5 linked regions of the Homo sapiens genome follow. The protein of the gene in region 3 interacts with the protein of the main gene of each other region in a pairwise test. Each region holds a gene or a part of one and is shown on either strand. Other genes may lie near its edges. The genes, in order: UTP14A, AKAP9, USO1, GABPB1 and GAK.

What was found.
Region 1: the proteins of USO1 (region 3) and UTP14A interact in a two-hybrid assay, tested with the Homo sapiens proteins (one large-scale study listed by BioGRID).
Region 2: the proteins of USO1 (region 3) and AKAP9 interact in binary tests that used the Homo sapiens proteins (3 or more experiments, as listed by UniProt).
Region 4: the proteins of USO1 (region 3) and GABPB1 interact in a two-hybrid assay, tested with the Homo sapiens proteins (one large-scale study listed by BioGRID and IntAct).
Region 5: the proteins of USO1 (region 3) and GAK interact in a two-hybrid assay, tested with the Homo sapiens proteins (one large-scale study listed by BioGRID and IntAct).

What each region holds. Positions count from the first base shown.
Region 1 is NC_000023.11:129,923,153-129,926,670, forward strand, and holds part of UTP14A (U3 small nucleolar RNA-associated protein 14 homolog A), read left to right. Parts: intron 1-1,642; coding exon 1,643-2,043; intron 2,044-2,766; coding exon 2,767-2,960; intron 2,961-3,087; coding exon 3,088-3,187; intron 3,188-3,518. UniProt on the Homo sapiens protein: May be required for ribosome biogenesis.
Region 2 is NC_000007.14:91,947,347-91,950,864, forward strand, and holds part of AKAP9 (A-kinase anchor protein 9), read left to right. Parts: intron 1-3,518. UniProt on the Homo sapiens protein: Scaffolding protein that assembles several protein kinases and phosphatases on the centrosome and Golgi apparatus. Required to maintain the integrity of the Golgi apparatus. Required for microtubule nucleation at the cis-side of the Golgi apparatus.
Region 3 is NC_000004.12:75,808,061-75,811,578, forward strand, and holds part of USO1 (general vesicular transport factor p115), read left to right. Parts: intron 1-892; coding exon 893-991; intron 992-2,371; coding exon 2,372-2,479; intron 2,480-3,518. UniProt on the Homo sapiens protein: General vesicular transport factor required for intercisternal transport in the Golgi stack; it is required for transcytotic fusion and/or subsequent binding of the vesicles to the target membrane.
Region 4 is NC_000015.10:50,278,692-50,282,209, reverse strand, and holds part of GABPB1 (GA-binding protein subunit beta-1 isoform beta 2), read left to right. Parts: intron 1-3,425; coding exon 3,426-3,518.
Region 5 is NC_000004.12:866,314-869,831, reverse strand, and holds part of GAK (cyclin-G-associated kinase), read left to right. Parts: intron 1-1,146; coding exon 1,147-1,293; intron 1,294-2,399; coding exon 2,400-2,876; intron 2,877-3,297; coding exon 3,298-3,468; intron 3,469-3,518. UniProt on the Homo sapiens protein: Associates with cyclin G and CDK5. Seems to act as an auxilin homolog that is involved in the uncoating of clathrin-coated vesicles by Hsc70 in non-neuronal cells. Expression oscillates slightly during the cell cycle, peaking at G1.

The sequences.
Region 1 (3,518 bases), on a different chromosome or scaffold from region 3:
TGTGTCCAAAGGCCAGATCTAAGGAGCTACAATGGCTTCATGCCAAAGCTAGACAGCAGGATCAACTTGGGAATGGAGGCAACTTGAGTCAATGAAAAAGACAGTTTAGAAGCATGTCACTGCCAGGTTTCCCTCCAGACTGTTTTGAGACAGGTCTCTGTCATACAGGCTGGAGTGCAGTGGTGCAACCTCGGCTCACTGCAAGCTCCACCTCCCAGGTTCAAGCAATCCTCCTGCCTCAGCCTGCAAGTAGCTGGGATTACAGGCATATGCCACCACGCCCAGCTAATTTTTGTATTTTTAGTAGAGACAGGGTTTTGCCATGTTGGTCAGGCTGGTCTCAAACTCCTGGCTTCAAGTGAATCACCCATTTCGGCCTCCCAGAGTGCTGGGATTACAGGTGTGAGCCACTGTGCCAAGCCAGCCCCTCCAGACTCTTGAGACTAGTGTTATTTGCTCAGATGTTGCCAGTGAAAGTGTGAGCTACATCCACTGGATAAAGCAGCTACTTCATCCCTTGACTCAGCCACAGCAGATTATGAAATACTGCTTTAAGATATGGAGTAGAAATTCTTGAGTCAAGATGAAAATCCTGGATAGGGTTTTTACAAGCAGTGAAGCATAAATTACAATGAAGTTACATTGAGAAGCCACCTGTTAAAGTGGCTTCCTTTTTTAAAATTTGGAACTTGGGGCAATCTTCCCAAGCAGGGTTTACTGCACGAGGAACTTAAGCCACAGTCCCAGTTATACAGTGGATCATTGGCAAAGCTGGGAATAGGACCCAGGACGTCTGCTTCCAATATGCTACTTTTTTTTTTTTTTTGAGACGTCTTGCCCTGTTGCCCAGGCTAGTATGCAGTGGCACAGTCACAGCTTCCTGCAGCCTTGACCTTCTGGCTCCAGCAATCCTCCCAGCTTAGCCTCCCAAGTAGGTGGGACTACAGATCCACACCGCCATGCCTGGAAATTTTTTGTTGTTGTTGGAGGGGTGGAGGTGGTAGAGATGAGTTCTCACTATGTTGTTCAGGCTGGTCTCGAACTCCTGGGCTCAAGCTATCCTGCCCCCTTGGCCTCCCAAAGTGCTGGCATACAGGCGTGAGCCACCATATCCAACATCTCACATGCTACTTTTTTTTTTTTTTTTTTTTTGAGACGGAGTCTCGCTCTGTCACCTAGGCTGGAGTGCAGTGGCACAATCTCGGCTCACTGCAACCTCTGCCTCCCTGGTTCAAGTGATTCTCCTGCCTCAGCCTCCTGAGTAGCTGGACTACAGGCACATGCCACCATGCCCAGCTAATTTTTTGTATTTTTAGTAGAGATGGGGTTTCACCGTGTTAGCCAGGATGGTCTCGATCTCCTGACCTCATGATCTGCCCGCCTCGGCCTCCCAAAGTGCTGGGATTACAGGTGTGAGCCACCGCACCTGGCCACATGCTACTTTTAATTACCAAACTCCGTTGCCTGCTATGATTAGTGTACTGTCTAGGAGATTCAATGTACAGAATCTTCTTTTCCCCGTTTGTCCTTTTTATAATGTCTTATGTGGTACCTAGCACTTGGTGGGTGCTCAACAAATGCTTACCGACCAGACAACGTACAAACCTCATTTTCTGACAGTTTTCATTCTTTTTTCCCCCAGATTCTGGCAGCCAGGAGGTGCTGTCTGAATTGAGAGTACTATCTCAGAAATTGAAGGAAAACCATCAGTCCAGGAAGCAAAAAGCAAGTTCAGAGGGGACTATTCCCCAGGTCCAGAGAGAGGAACCTGCCCCAGAAGAAGAGGAGCCCCTGTTGCTACAGAGACCAGAGAGAGTACAGACGCTGGAAGAGCTAGAAGAGCTGGGAAAAGAAGAATGTTTTCAAAATAAGGAGCTTCCCAGACCTGTGTTAGAAGGGCAGCAGTCAGAGAGGACCCCAAATAATCGCCCTGATGCCCCTAAGGAGAAGAAAAAGAAGGAGCAAATGATCGACCTACAGAACCTCCTAACCACACAATCTCCCTCCGTGAAGTCTTTGGCAGTTCCCACAATAGAGGAGCTGGTGAGCAGAGCCAGGGTGGTGGGCCATTGTTCAGAAAGTGTCGTTCTTGCGCAAGGAGTAATGAAGCTTTGTTTTGCTGGGGGCACATTTCAGTAGTTTAGAGGTCCAGAATAGTATAGGGCCAGGCTAGTCCCAGTGACGTTTTAATAGATGCAGATATATGGGTGCTGCCAAGACCCCTATTTCCGAAAGCCTGATCCACAAAAACTCCTCTGGGGTGACTCTAAAACTGCTCTCAGAGGTAAGAGGGAGTAACTCAGAGTTCTGACCAGATCCCAGGCAGGACAACTTGAAGGTGAGTCATTGAACTGTTGCGAAAGTTTTATTCAGTGGGATCTCAGATGGTCTAAGACTCCCCAGTTAATCTGAAACTTAAAGTGAAGCGTCCTGGCACCTGTCTTTTCAGGGATATAAGCTGGAGGAAGCCTACAGTCTGGCCACTTAGAGCTCCTGCTGCTAACACGGGCCATTCCTTCCTCCACCCTGCAGCTTCCTTACTGAAAAGTTTAAAATTGTGTCATATGATAATGAGCTAGGGATATTTACCCTAGAGGGAAGAAAATTTGAGCATGATTGGCTGTGCACTGGTTTGTATCGCAAGACCATCATTGTTCAGCACTTCCCCCTAGGGGGCGCTAAAATGTCACGACCCGAAATTCAAGCGTTCTCGCCATGAACCACAGCTCATAAGCCAAGCTGTAGCTCTCGCTTGTTTCTTCCCAGGAAGATGAAGAGGAGAGAAACCATAGGCAGATGATAAAGGAAGCTTTTGCTGGGGATGATGTCATCAGAGATTTCTTGAAAGAGAAGAGGGAAGCTGTGGAGGCGAGTAAGCCAAAGGACGTGGACCTGACACTACCTGGCTGGGGCGAGTGGGGTGGTGTGGGCCTAAAGCCCAGTGCCAAGAAAAGACGCCGGTAAGAATGCCGAAGAAAGTCTGTCAAAAGGGCACCGGGTTCTCCCCTCGCCCTTCGGTGTCCTCCCTACCCTTTTGACTAAGTCCTTAATGCTCCTAGTCAGATGTCCTGTTGTTTTGCTTTCCAGGTTTCTCATTAAAGCCCCTGAGGGTCCTCCAAGAAAAGATAAGAATTTGCCAAATGTGATTATCAATGAGAAGCGCAACATCCACGCAGCTGCTCATCAGGTGAGAGCTTAGAGAGCTCTTTAGCTGCCTGCTTGTTACTGCCTGGCTCTCTTGCTTGAGAGGAGTATTCTAGTGATCTGTAGTCAAGAGAGACGTGTGATCTTGACCGCAGAATCAAATCTGTTGTTTTCACTGAATGGCTGTTAGATTTATCATTTCAGATAGACTACGCTGTTTTAATTACTGGCCAGGAAAAAAGTTTAGAGTCAAGGTAATGCTCAAACAGAGGCTATAAGGTTTAAGCTGTAGCTTAAGAAAAATGAAGACAAACCGGTACTTGTTCAGGAGAATGAGAAGATTGTAAGTTGTGTCACATGATAATGAGCTAGGG
Region 2 (3,518 bases), on a different chromosome or scaffold from region 3:
TTTTTTTTCCCCCCGAGATGGAGTCTCACTCTGTCACCCAGGCTGGAGTGCAGTGGCACGATCTCGGCTCACTGCAACCTCCACCTCCTGGGTTCTAGCTATTCTCCTGCCTCAGCCTCCCGAGTAGCTGGGACTACAGGCGCCCACCACCACACCCGGCTAGGTTTTTATTTTTAGTAGAGACAGGGTTTCACCATATTGGCCAGGCTGGTCTCAAACTCCTGACCTTGTGATCCGTCCACCTTGGCCTCCCAAAGTGCTGGGATTACAGGCGTGAGCAACCGCGCCCGGCCGCAAACATTTATTTAAATGATCACAAATTCTGTGCCTTATTGTCTGTTGGAATAATCTTATGATGTGTACCTCAACAGGTGTTTTGAAGGATAAATGAAATAATGGTTGGGAGCTTTTTGAGTTCTCTAGGTGCTAGATATAAAGAAGCTATAATTTTTTTTAATTGAGGTGAAATTCATAAGCAAAATTAACCATCTTTAAGTGAACTTAACACAGTGGCTTAACACAATCTTATGCAACTACTGCTTCTGTCTACTTCCCAAACATCTTTCCATCTCAAAATATAACCCTGTGCCCATTAAGCAGATATTCTTCATTGCTTCTTCCCTCTAGCCACTAACAATCACCAACGCACTCTCTGGATTTACCAGTTGTAGATATTTAATATGAAAGGAATCATATAATATGTGACCCTTTGTGTCTGGCTTCTTTCACTTAGTATGTTTTCAAGGTTCATCCATTTTGCTGCATATATCAGTACTTCATTCCTTTTTATGGCTGAATAATATTCCATTGTATGTATATACCATAATTTGTCCAATGATAGGCATTTGGGTTGTTTCTGTCTTTTGGCTATTGTGAATAGTGCTGCTGTGAACATTTGTATGGATGTATTTGAGTACCTGTTTTCATTTCTCTTGGGTATATACCTAGTAGTAGAACTGAGCAAGGTCATATGGTAGTTATATTTCAACTTTTTGAGGAACTGCCAAACTGTTTCCATAGTGACTGTACCATTTTACCTTCCCATCAGCAATGTATAGGACATTCCAATTTTCCCATAACCTCATTAACAGTTGTGTTTTCTGTTTTTTTTGTTTGTTTGTTTTGTTTTTTTGTTTTTTTAATACTCATCCTTGTGGGTATTAAGTGGTTTCTAATTGTGGTTTTGGTTTGTATTTTCCTAATGAATAATGATATTGAGTATCATCTTTTAATGCACTTTTTGGCCACTTGTAGATTTCTTTTTTTTTTTTTTTTTTTTTTTGAGATGGAGTTTTGCTCTTGTCTCCCAGGCTTGAGTGCAATGGCGCAACCTCAGCTCACTGCAACCTCCACCTCCTGGGTTCAAGTGATTCTCCTGCCTCAGCCTCCCTAGTAGATGGGATTACAGGCATCCACCACCATGCCCGATTAATTTTTTTGTATTTTTAGCAGAGATGGGGTTTCACCATGTTGGCCAGGCTGGTCTTGAACTCCTGACCTCAGGTGATCTGCCCGCCTCAGCCTCCCCAGTAGCTGTGATTACAGGCATCCACCACCATGCCCGATTAATTTTTTTGTATTTTTAGCAGAAATGGGATTTCACCATGTTGGCCAGGCTGGTCTTGAACTCCTGACCTCAGGTGATCTGCCCACCTCGGCCTCCCAAAGTGCTGGGATTACAGGCCTGAGCCACTGCGCCTAGCCCATTTGTAGATCTTCTTTAGAGAAATGTCTATTAATATCCCTTGCCCATTTTTTAATTGGGTTGTTACCAACTTCTTTTATCTAATATTAATTATATATGTATATAAAATATATATATATCCTTTCCGTATGTGTGGAGAGAGAGAGAACGTGTGCACTCAAGCACCAGAGAGGAATGGGTAGAAATACGTATCCCCAGTGGGATTATCTTCCATATATATATATTTTTAGGCTTTTTGGGCTTTGCCAAAATTTAAATTGTTGCTTCCTTTGAGTGATAGGTTCTTGGTGAGTTGATAACAGCATGATGCTGAAGCTTGATTTCTTTGTTGGCCAGTGAGTCATTCCATTCCATGAGCAGCTGTTTTACAAGTGCATGCAGTTGGTTAAAGGGGCACCTGTTGGATTTTTGGCTTGATCATTGCCAGTCCATTTACACTGTGAGAAAAAAGTAACTTAGTGTTCAAAAATGAAAAGACCTGTCATTTTAAACATGGGGGATCTGTAGCTACTTCACTAGTATGAGATGTCTTTGTTGTCATATTGACACCCCTTTTATTTTTTGTCTTAGTCATCACCAAACTGTAACTTACAACACTTAGTGCCCTTCTAGGTACATTGCATAAAGCTTTGGTTGATTTTTGCATGGGTTTAACAGTATTCAAAAGTGTTCAATATTCAGAGTATTCAAAAATTTAACATTATTTCAGGAGTAGTTTTGCTTAGGTTCTTTGTTTAAATTTATAGATTCTTTTGTAATATGTAAAATTCCTTTTTCCTCCTTGTTCACTAACAATGTAGTGTTTGTTTTCAGTTACCATCAGAGTTAAGATTCTTATTGTGGTTTACTGTTCTCTGAGATTTTTGTGTGGTGTGAAAGTTTCTCTGTAAAAGTCTAAGAGTTTTTCCCCCTTTTAAGAAATAATTTCTTAAAGCCCCCAAGATTATTGTTTTGATGATTCAGAACTATAATCAACTTTACTATACAAAGTCCTAATCTGTAAAGATTGATTTCATAGGTTCTCTGATTTACAGATCTCTGAAAAACTAATAGGGTATAAAATCTAGGCTCTCTCTCCTATTAGTACTGAACACACTATAAAATTCCTTGTTGTTTACTAGGATTGCTCATTGTGGGCTCTGTGGTTAGGCTGTATTTATTCCTCCAGGGTCTCACTTTTTTTTTTTTTTTTTTTTGAGACAGAGTCTTGCTCTGTCACCCAGGCTGGAGTGCAGTGGCACTATCTCGGCTCAGTGCAAGCTCTGCCTCCCGGGTTCACGCCATTCTCCTGCCTCAGCCTCCCCAGCAGCTGGGACCACAGGTGCACGCTGCCAAGCCCGGCTAATTTTTCTGTATTTTTAGTAGAGACGGGGTTTCACTGTGTTAGCCAGTATGGTCTCAATCTCCTGACCTCATGATCCGCCTGCCTCGGCCTCCCAAAGTGCTGGGATTACAGGCGTGAGCCACAACGTCCAGGCTAGGGTCTCACTTTTATTCAAGTTAGTATTGCCTTATTAGTTGTTTCCCCAGAGAAGATAGTGACAGGGATCAATTATAACTAAAATAGTAGTTCTCCATATGTATCATGAATCAAATTTTGTGTGTGGAGACCTTGTGGGGATTGCAGTGGGCATGGGGCAGAGATCTCAGTTAATTCTTACGCCGTTTATATCCTCTACTCCATTTCTTGAGAGCCAAATAAATTAGTAGATCTTCTTCTAAATGGCAAGATATTAGAAAATATGTTAAAACTGCATTAGGAAATATCTACTAGGAGTTTATATATGAAATAATGAGTTTTGGCTGAAAGTTA
Region 3 (3,518 bases):
TTGTCCCACCACTTACTCAGTGTCTCCAGACATTACCAAATGTCCTCGGGGATGGGGGGATATGGGGAGAAATCACTCCTGCTGAGAGCCATTGTTATAATTGCCTTTCTTTTCCTGTACTTTTTTTGGGGGAGGAGAAGGTGAGAAGTTTGGAAATTCAACATTAATAAAAACTTTCAATTAATACCCTGGTTTTCATTATAGTACTACTGCTTTCATCTGTGTTTGGTGGTCCCTAGTCTAAAGATGTCCTGTTTTGCCCAGCCACATAATAAACCTCAAGTCTTCATCCAGGAAAGGAGGAACGGTTGCCTGATGCCTAAGATTGAGACAGGGATCTGATGATCTATTTCTTAAATAGTCTTTTAACCAGGCCTGCAGTTTTTAACCTCATTTTTATCTGTACTTCCAGTGGTATCTAATGATACCAGTTCCTAACCTTTCTGGTAGTTAATGCATTCATTGTAAGTCAGGTACTATCTTAACTTTCTCAGTGGTCATCCTAGCTTTCAGCTTTCTCAGGTGTGCTGATTTAGTTATCACTGTTACTTGCTTTCTCAAAATTCCCCAATTATATTGCTCTCTTCTCTTACTGTTCTTGTTTTTGTAGGTTTCTTCCTCTCTCCCTCCCATCCTTCCTTTCTTTCTTCCTTCTCCCCTCCCTTCCTGTCTTTTATGATTTTTTTTTTTTGCATGGGATTTCAGGAGGGAGCAGAGGTAAATGAATGTGTTGAATTTTCCATCTTGAACCCAAAATTCAAGAATAGTTCTTTAGAGTTAGATTTTAAAAGTAGGAGGTTGTAAATCATTTTTTTAAATGTCTCCCTGTAAATATTTCCTTGATGAATTTAATACCATTTAATGTTATGACTCAACTATTTTTGTCTCTTAGGAACTGGCAACTTTAAAGTCTCAGTTAAACTCACAATCTGTGGAGATCACCAAACTACAGACAGAAAAGCAGGAACTGTTACAGAAAACAGAAGCGTTTGTAAGTATTTTCTCTTTTTTCTCTGGAAGGTAATAAAGACAAGGTTGATGTATTATTTCTTAGCCACAATTAAAAAGAAACAAATTCATCAGATAGCACCTTCTCTTTAGATTACTTACTAGCCGGTATTCTAGTAACATAGGCTTCATGTTCATGGTGACAGTCGTTTTATAGTCAGTCTCACCAGATTAGTTTATTCAGTTACTTAATAGTTTATTTTGCTGGTATTACATTCTATTTCTGTCCCTTCAGTCCAAGCTGGCAGTTTTTCTGCTGTCATAAAATATTCAGAAACCGTTGTTGTTTTCTCCAGAACATTCCTTCTCATACTTTTGCAATATAGGTAGACTGAGAATTTTCCAAATCTTCTAATTCTGATTCTTTTTTGCTTAGCAATTTCTTCTTCAATTTATCTCTCTTCTCTCACATTTAACTTTAAGCAACAAGGAGAAACCAGGCTGCACTCCAACACTTTGCTTAGAAACCTCAGTAAAATATCCAAATTCATTATTTACAAGTTCTGCTGTCCACAAAACACTGCAACACTATTTGGCCAAGTTATTTGCCACTTTATAACAAGGATTGCCTTTCCTCCGATTCCCAGTAACATGTTCCTAGTTTTCATCTGAGACCTCACCAAAAGCACCTTTAACATTCATATTTCTGCCAGCATTCTTCTTCTCACTATGACCATGAAGCTTCTTTCCAACTCCGCTCTTTTCTTTCTGAGCTCTCACCAGAATCACTTAATGTCCATATCTCTAGCAACAGTCTCATCAAGGTAATGCAGGCTTTGTCTACCATGCACCTCTCTTACAGCCTCTACTCATTACACAGTTCCAAAGCTACTTCCACATTTTTAGATATTTGTTGTGTCACTACCCGACTTCCTAGTATTTTAGAAAAAAGACAAGGAAAGACTGAAAAACTGTTATTCAGGAGTGTCTCCTCTAGCACTTGAGAAAAGATTTGCATTTCACTAATAATGATATTTGGCTCAATTTATCTACCTATCTAGGGTGGTAGTATGGACTTATAGGAAATTTATGAAGGAAAGGCTTTGAAAAATATTCTGTGTTTATTAAATGCTGGGTTACAGTTACATTAGAGCTGCCTTGCTGATTACTTTTCTGGGCTTACCTACCTTGAGGCACCTTAGCCCAGCCTTCCTCGTACTCTTATGAGATTTGATGCTCTTCCATGTGGGAACAGCTCATCTGACAGTGGAGAGCACTTTGTTGCACATAAATACATAAGGAATTATATTTTCTGTTAGTGAAAGTAAAATATCAAAATGGCAAAAAAATTAAATAACCCTTTGGGAGTTCATATTGATTGTAATGTTTAAGAGACATCTTTTTTTCCAATTTCTAATTTCAGGCAAAATCAGTTGAGGTACAAGGAGAGACCGAGACTATAATAGCCACCAAAACTACTGATGTAGAAGGAAGACTGTCAGCATTATTACAAGAGACCAAAGAGTTAAAGGTTTGTTTTTGGTGCAACTTTTATTTACTGCATATGATATGAAATGAACTCTAGGAAATTTTATATATCTTTCAAATTCTTAGATTTATGAAGAAAGCTAATGATGTGTAATTTTATCTCACAACATTTTCACTCCTATATTGATGATTTAAGATGGCACAAATGAAAATTTTTTTTGTTTTGGGTTTTTTTGTTTTGTTTTGTTTTTTTGAGATGGAGTTTCGCTCTGTCACCAGACTGGAGTACAGTGGCGCGATCTCGGCTCACCACAACCTCTGCCTCCCAGGTTCAAGCAATTCTCCCGCCTCAACCTACTGAGTAGCTGGGACTACAGGCGTGCACCACCACACCCAGCTAATTTTTGTATTTTTAGTACAGACAGGGTTTCACCACGTTGGCCAGGATGGTCTCCATCTCTTGACCTCGTGATCCACCTGCCTTGGCCTCCCAAAGTGCTGGAATGCTGGAATTACAGGTGTGAGCTGCCGCACCCAGCCACAAATGAAGCTTTTAAAATACTATTTCAAATAATGATAATATGTAAGATAAGCATACATATGCATGTACTATAAAAGTAAAATTTATTGAAAATATTTTTGTTTTCTTTCTTTCTTTTTCTTTTTTTTTTTGAGAGAGAGTCTCAATTTTGTGTTCCAGGCTGGATGGAGTGCAGTGGCATGATCTCAGCTCACTGCAGCCTCCACCTCCCAGATTCAAGCGATTCTCCTGCCTCAGCCTCCTGAGTAGCTGGGATTTCAGGCACCTGCCAACATGCTCAGCTAATTTTTGTACTTTTAGTAGAGACGAGGATTCGCCATGTTGGCCAGGCTGGTCTCAAACTCCTGACCTCAGGTGATCTGCCCGCATTGGCCCCCCCCAAAGTGCTGGGATTACAGGCGTGAGCCACCACACCCGGCCTGTGTTTTCTTTTTAAGATCAACATCTAATCACAATAACAAAACAAGGAGTACAAATTTAGCTAATACACAAGCCACATGTAGGCTTTCCATAAGCCGTGGAACATAGGCACATTAAATCC
Region 4 (3,518 bases), on a different chromosome or scaffold from region 3:
TTTATTTTTTGAGACAGGGTCTCACTGTGTTGCCTAGGCTGGAGTGCAGTGGTGCAATCACAGTTCACTGCAGCCTTGACCTCCCTGGGCTCAAGCAATCCTCCCACCTCACAGCCTCTTGAGTAGCTGGGACTACAGGCTACACCACCATGCCCAGCCAATTTTTGTATTTTTTTGTAGAGATAAGGTTTTGTGGCTGGGCATGGTAATTCATGCCTGTAATCCCAGCACTTTGGGAGACTGAAGTGGGAGGATCACTTGAGGTCAGGATTTTGAGATGAGGTTTTGCCCTGTTGCCCAGGCTAGTCTCTCACTCCTAGGCTCAAGCAATCCACCTGCCTTGGCCTTCCAAAATACTAGGATTACAGGCATGAGCCACTGCATGCCCAGCACCCAGTCTATATCTCTTTTTTCTAAGGCTGGAGAAGGCAAAGTTTTTTTTCATAAATGGCCAGGTACCAAATATTTTTGGCTTTGTGGGCCCTACAGTCTGTCAACTACTCAATTCTGCCATTGTAGTGAAAGCAGCCATAGACAATTTGAAAATGGGTGGGTGTGGCTGTATTTCAATAAAACTTTATTTATAAAAACAAAATCATACTTGTCATATTTGGCTCAGGGCAGTTAGAAAATTGATGTTTACACACAAGCAAATAGCTCACATATCCTGCCCAGTTTCTCTCTTTTAAAAAACATTTAGGCCGGGCGCAGTGGCTCACGCCTGTAATCCTAGCACTTTGGGAGGCCAAGGCGGGCAGATCACGAGGTCAGGAGATTGAGACCATCCTGGCTAACATGGTGAAACCCCGTCTCTACTAAAAATACAAAAAATTAGCTGAGCATGGTGGCGTGCGCCTATAGTCCCAGCTACTCAGGAGGCTGATGCAGGAGAATTGCTTGAATCCGGGAGGTGGAGGTTGCAGTGAGCTGAGATAATGCCACTGCACTCCAGCCTGGGCAACAGAGCAAGACTCCGTCTCAAAAAGAAAAAAAAATTATAGTGTTAATTATACTTTCAATCTTAAAGATTAAATGTATTCAGCATGCAGTGCTAATGATCTTTGTCTTCTAGGTTTTATAGAATTAGCCAAAAAATGCTGTGAAAATGAGTTTTTTATTTCACCTGGTAGGCAGAAGGAAACTATCTTTTCATTTTTATCAAGATAAATTGTACTTCTTGAAGTTAAAATATGCAGTATGGAAAATAGGATTAGGTTCTTTTCACTGTTAGACTACCTCACTCGGTTTGCTTTCATCTTCTGCAATAATTGTGAATCCTTTCCTGACTCTAAATGTTAATAAATAGGTAATACTAGAAGATGCTTTAGAGTTAACCTCTTCCAATATTTCCTGCTAAATCAAGGTAAATTTATACCCATATTCAAAACTTTGGCTACCAAAGGATTGCTCTTATTTTTCACATAATGTAAGTTTTTGTTTGTTTTCTCTTTTTTCTTTTTTTTTTCTTTTGAGACAAGGTCTTGCTCTGTCACCCAGGCTGGAGTGCGGTGGAGTTGCTCACTGCAGCCTCAACCTCCTGGGCTCAAGTGATCCTCCTGCCTCAGCTTCCCAAGTAGCTGGGACTACAGGCGCATACCACCATGCCCATCTAAGTTTTGTATTTTTTGTAGGGGTTTTGCCATGTTGCCCAGGCTTGTCTCAAATTCCTGGGCTTAAGTGATCTGCCTGCCTTGGCCTCTCAAAGTGCTGGCATTAAGGTGTGAGTCACTGTGCCCAGCCACACGTAAAATTTTAAAACACGTGCATGGCTGTGGACACTCCTGCCAGAGCTGTGGTCTAGCTCCTGGGAAGTAACATCCAACCTTCCACCCCTCACCCCTTCCATTGGTGTCCTTAAAGTCCTGCACAGTTTGTAGCCAGGGTACTGGCATTGATTGCTTACCTTGGACTCATCCTAGGTTGTCTTTTCTGACTTGTTCCTATCTTGGCTGGATTTAGGATAAGAGGAGGGGAGAAGAAGTGTTGGGAGGCAGCAGGATAGGGCCTGGGCATTGCTTAAACTGGGAGTAAGGGACATTCCTTTCTTCTACTTGTACATTTTGTGTAATTGGAAGATTTGGAGATCTTTTGTCTCCAAATGAATCACTCCCACATCTGGTGGGCCCATGAGAAAAAGAAATGTTGGATCTAGCTTCATTCCCATTGTGGGGAAGGAAGTGGAATCACAGAAAGGCAGGAGGATTATACATGCTCCTGCTTGTGGACCAACCATATGAATAGAGAAGGTGAGGAATCCTTTGGTGTTCACAATGGGCAGGAGTCAAGGAGGCAGAGGATATACATAATAGGATATATAGAAAGAGAATCTCATACTGTGCCTCCCCAGTGGTCGGCCAACCACTTACCTTTAGTTCTCTCTGGCCAAGTGTCTTGTCCACTGTGGACCTATCATTCTTGTGATAGTCCGACCCCTGGCCTTCACCCCACTCAGAGGTCCTGGGCATCTGTGATGAGGTTGCCTCATTCCTAAGACCTGGAAACTACCCTTGAGCTTTGGTCTGTGGAGGTTGAGCTTTTGTCCTTGTGCTCACTTAGAGGTGTGGGAATGGGTTCGTTGAAATGTTTCTCCTTGTTTTTCCTGCAATAACTGAATGGGGCAGAGTGAGGAGGAAGAGGAGAAACAATACCGTTTTCATTGGATTGGATTTGTGTTTCAGCTCTCAATTTGTTGAGGAATTTAATGCATATATTTTATACCTATATAATTTAATCATTGATAATTTAGTATTTTATTGGTTTATGAAATAGTATAATTTAGGAAATACTGATCTTGATCAGCACTCTTCATTTTAAAGGTGAATTATCTTGCTTGCTATTGTAAATGAAAATAGTTTTAAAAGCAGTAATGTTAGAACCCTATAAATCCAACTTCTTACTATGTGACCTTGGGAGAGCTACATCATCCCTGAGCATCATTTTTCTCATCTTTAACTTGTGCATAATATCTGTCTTAGATGCTTATTGTTGGAAATCACCCTGTTTACTCATATAGTGGGTGCTCAGTAAAATTGTTTTATAATTATTACCTTTTGGTAAGAGCACCACAAATGGAAATATAAAGAGGTATGGTTGTATATTTCCCTCTTAAAAACTCTTCACTAGTTTTTGTAGTACATATAAAAGTACAGGTGCCCAGTTTGGAGTCTTTCTGTTAGTCTTATTTCTAAATAGGAAAATAATTTCCTTGCAGTCAGAAATTAATCCATATCTCATAATGTGGAGCACAAAATTAGGGACTTAAATGTTAGTGAATTGATTGAAAAGGCAAGATGTCTAGGAAATTTCAATAGGTGGCTGCTTTTAGCTACTACGGTTTTTTTTTTTAATTTGAAGGATGCATGCTTATATGTATTAATAATGTATTTTTGCAAAAATTAAAAAAAAAACCCTCTTCTTTTAATTAGGAGAGAGAAGCTCTTCAGAAACAGCTGGATGAAGCAAATCGAGAAGCACAAAAATATCGACAGCAGCTCCTAAAGAAAGAACAGGAAGCAGAG
Region 5 (3,518 bases), about 75 Mb from region 3:
TGTACTGTGCCTGTGTGTGTGCATTTGTGTGTACCATGCATCTCTGCTGTGTGTGCATTCGTGTGTACTGTGCATCTGTGTGTACTGTGTGCATTCATGTGTACTGTGCATCTGTGTGTGCTGTGTGTGCATTCATGTGTACCCTGCATGTGTGTATGTGCTGTGTGTGCATTCGTGTGTACTGTGCATCTGTGTGTGTGCATTCATGTGTACCCTGCATGTGTGTATGTGCTGTGTGTGCATTCGTGTGTACTGTGCATCTGTGTGTGTGCATTCATGTGTACCCTGCATGTGTGTATGTGCTGTGTGTGCATTCGTGTGTACTGTGCATCTGTGTGTGTGCATTCCTGTGTACCATGCATCTGTGTGTGCTGTGTGTGCATTCCTGTGTACTGTGCATTTGTGCTGTGTGTGCATTCATGTGTACCGTGCATCTGTGTGTGCTTTGCATTCGTGTGTACCCTGCATGTGTGTATGTGCTGTGTGTGCATTCGTGTGTACTGTGCATCTGTGTGCTGTGTGTGCATTCATGTGTACTGTGCATCTGTGTGTGTGCTGTGTGTGCATTCATGTGTACCCTGCATCTGTGTGTGTGCTGTCTGTGCATCCGTGTGTACCATGCATCTGTGTGTGCATTCATGTGTACTGTGCATCTGTGTGTGCTGTGTGTATTCATGTGTACCCTGCATCTATGTGTGTGCTGTCTGTGCATTCGTGTATACTGTGCATCTGTGTGTGCTGTGTGTGCATTCGTGTGTACCCTGCATCTGTGTGTGTGCATTTGTGTGTACTGTGCGCCTGTGTGTGTGCTCTATGCATTCGTGTGTACCGTGCAGCTGTGTGTGTGCATTCATGTGTACCCTGCATATGTGTGGCGTTTGATGCCTCAGTGGTGGGTTCCTTGTGCGTGTTCATGTGTGCGTGTGCTGTGCCCAAGTGTGCACGCATGGCCCAGAGTGGCATCCGAGTGGATAGCAGGAATCTGTTCAGAGAGCCCCTCCCCGTCATGTCATTGGTCTGCTTTACCGATGGCCTGGCCTGCCACGGTGCTGGCGCCCGCCTGGCTGCACTTCCCAGCTCTGGGGTCAGTGTTGCCCCGAGGCTGCTGGCCAGTGCCAGTGCCCTGACGCCCTCCCTCTCCTGCAGGGAAGCCGGAGCTTCCCCGGCAGCCTGGCTCCACGGCTCAGTATGATGCTGGGGCAGGGTCCCCGGAAGCCGAACCCACAGACTCTGACTCACCGCCAAGCAGCAGCGCGGACGCCAGTCGCTTCCTGCACACGCTGGACTGGCAGGGTAGGCAGCGTCCCTGGACCTGGCCACTTGCAGAGGGCAGGCCCCTGGTCTGGAGGTGCCCCTGGGGCAGGGCAAGCGTCTTGGGAGACGGGCCTCCGGCAGAGCTGAGTTGCACCTCAGTGGGGCTGTGCACCCGGCATGTCAGCCTGTTCTTTAATGGCTCACGAGCTAAGAATGATTTCATATCTTTTTAAAGGTGAAAAAAAAAGAACATGCCCACAAAGTCTGAAATAACAACCCTCGCTCTTCATCCCAGTCTGTGGGCCTGGGGAGGCTGGCAGCATGGGCCATGCTGGCGGGGCCCCTGGGTACAGGGGAAGGGCCTGGGCGGAGGGACAGACTGTCACCACCTGGGGATCCCACACCTCTCTTTGCCCACACCCCCAGTGGGCTCCCAGCCCCTCTGAGGCTTTTCAGGAAAACACCTGGGCGCCATCACTGGACCTCACCCCAGACACACCCCAAGGGATGCACCTGCCACTTCCTGTCCCAGCACCCCTGGCCTTCCCATCGGGCTCGTCCCTTCTGCCGCCTGTTCCCAGAGCACCCTTGATTGGTGTTCCTACCCCCTAGTGCTGCCATGTGGCCCCCACTTGACTCAGCCTGAGGCACCGCAGAGGCCCAGGCGGAGAGAGCCACAGGCAGACCCTTGAGGCAGAGGCTGGAGGTGGGTGTGCTGGAGACGCCTCAGGAACAACACCCCACCGCCCGCCCAGAAGCTTCTGCAGCACTCGCCAGGGCCCTGGGCCAAGGAGGCGCTGAGGGGCCGTGCCATGGGGACATTGGTGCTGGCCATGTGGGTTCGCCAAGGCCCTGGGCTGAGGGGACGCGCCGTGGGGACCCTGGTGTTCCTGCAGCACTTGCCAAGGCCCTGGGCCGAGGAGGTGCCGAGGGGCCATGCCATGGGGACCCTGGTGCTGGCCACGTGTGTTCACCAAGGCCCTGGGCCGAGGAGGCCCTGAAGGGACGCGCCGTGGGGACCCTGGTGCTGGCCACGTGTGTTCACCAAGGCCCTGGGCCGAGGAGGCCCTGAAGGGACGCGCCGTGGGGACCCTGGTGCTGGCCGTGTGGTCTCACTAGCCTGTGGTTTTGTTTCCTTTTCGCAGAAGAGAAGGAGGCAGAGACTGGTGCAGAAAATGCCTCTTCCAAGGAGAGCGAGTCTGCCCTGATGGAGGACAGAGACGAGAGTGAGGTGTCAGATGAAGGGGGATCCCCGATCTCCAGCGAGGGCCAGGAACCCAGGGCCGACCCAGAGCCCCCCGGCCTGGCAGCAGGGCTGGTGCAGCAGGACTTGGTTTTTGAGGTGGAGACACCGGCTGTGCTGCCAGAGCCTGTGCCACAGGAAGACGGGGTCGACCTCCTGGGCCTGCACTCCGAGGTGGGCGCAGGGCCAGCTGTACCCCCGCAGGCCTGCAAGGCCCCCTCCAGCAACACCGACCTGCTCAGCTGCCTCCTTGGGCCCCCTGAGGCCGCCTCCCAGGGGCCCCCGGAGGATCTGCTCAGCGAGGACCCGCTGCTCCTGGCAAGCCCGGCCCCTCCCCTGAGCGTGCAGAGCACCCCAAGAGGAGGGCCCCCTGCCGCTGGTACGTGTTTCTGTTCTGAAGGCGAGTGGCTTCACAGTAGATGAGTGATGAGGCTGAGTCATTCTCACTGCATGGGCGTGTTTCGAAGGTGCTTGCAGGAAGGGAACGTGCCCTTCCCCCACCTCCCCCAGGAGCAGCCTCGGGGTCATGTCAGGGTTCTGTGCTGCCCACCTGAGCTCACGGGCCGGGAGCTACTGGCTTCTCCATCTCAGCAGTGTTGCTGTGTCCCTGGGAAAGTCATCCTGAGGCGTGGGGCACGGGGAGCCCCTGGGCTGACTGCCTCAGTGCCCCTGCGAGGGCAGCCGTGGGGTCTGGGCTGCCCAGCTGGAGTGGCCTCTTGGGCAGGCCTGACTCCAGAGCTGGGCTCCTTTGTCTTCAGGCAGCCGGGCTGAGTCCTCCCCATGCCCGCCTGTCCCCACAGCTGACCCCTTTGGCCCGCTTCTGCCGTCTTCAGGCAACAACTCCCAGCCCTGCTCCAATCCTGATCTCTTCGGCGAATTTCTCAATTCGGACTCTGTGACCGTCCCACCATCCTTCCCGTCTGCCCACAGTGCTCCGCCCCCATCCTGCAGCGCCGACTTCCTGCACCTGGGTAAGTGCCTCTCGCCTGGCAGCCAGCTCTCCATGGCCGCCTCCCTCAGG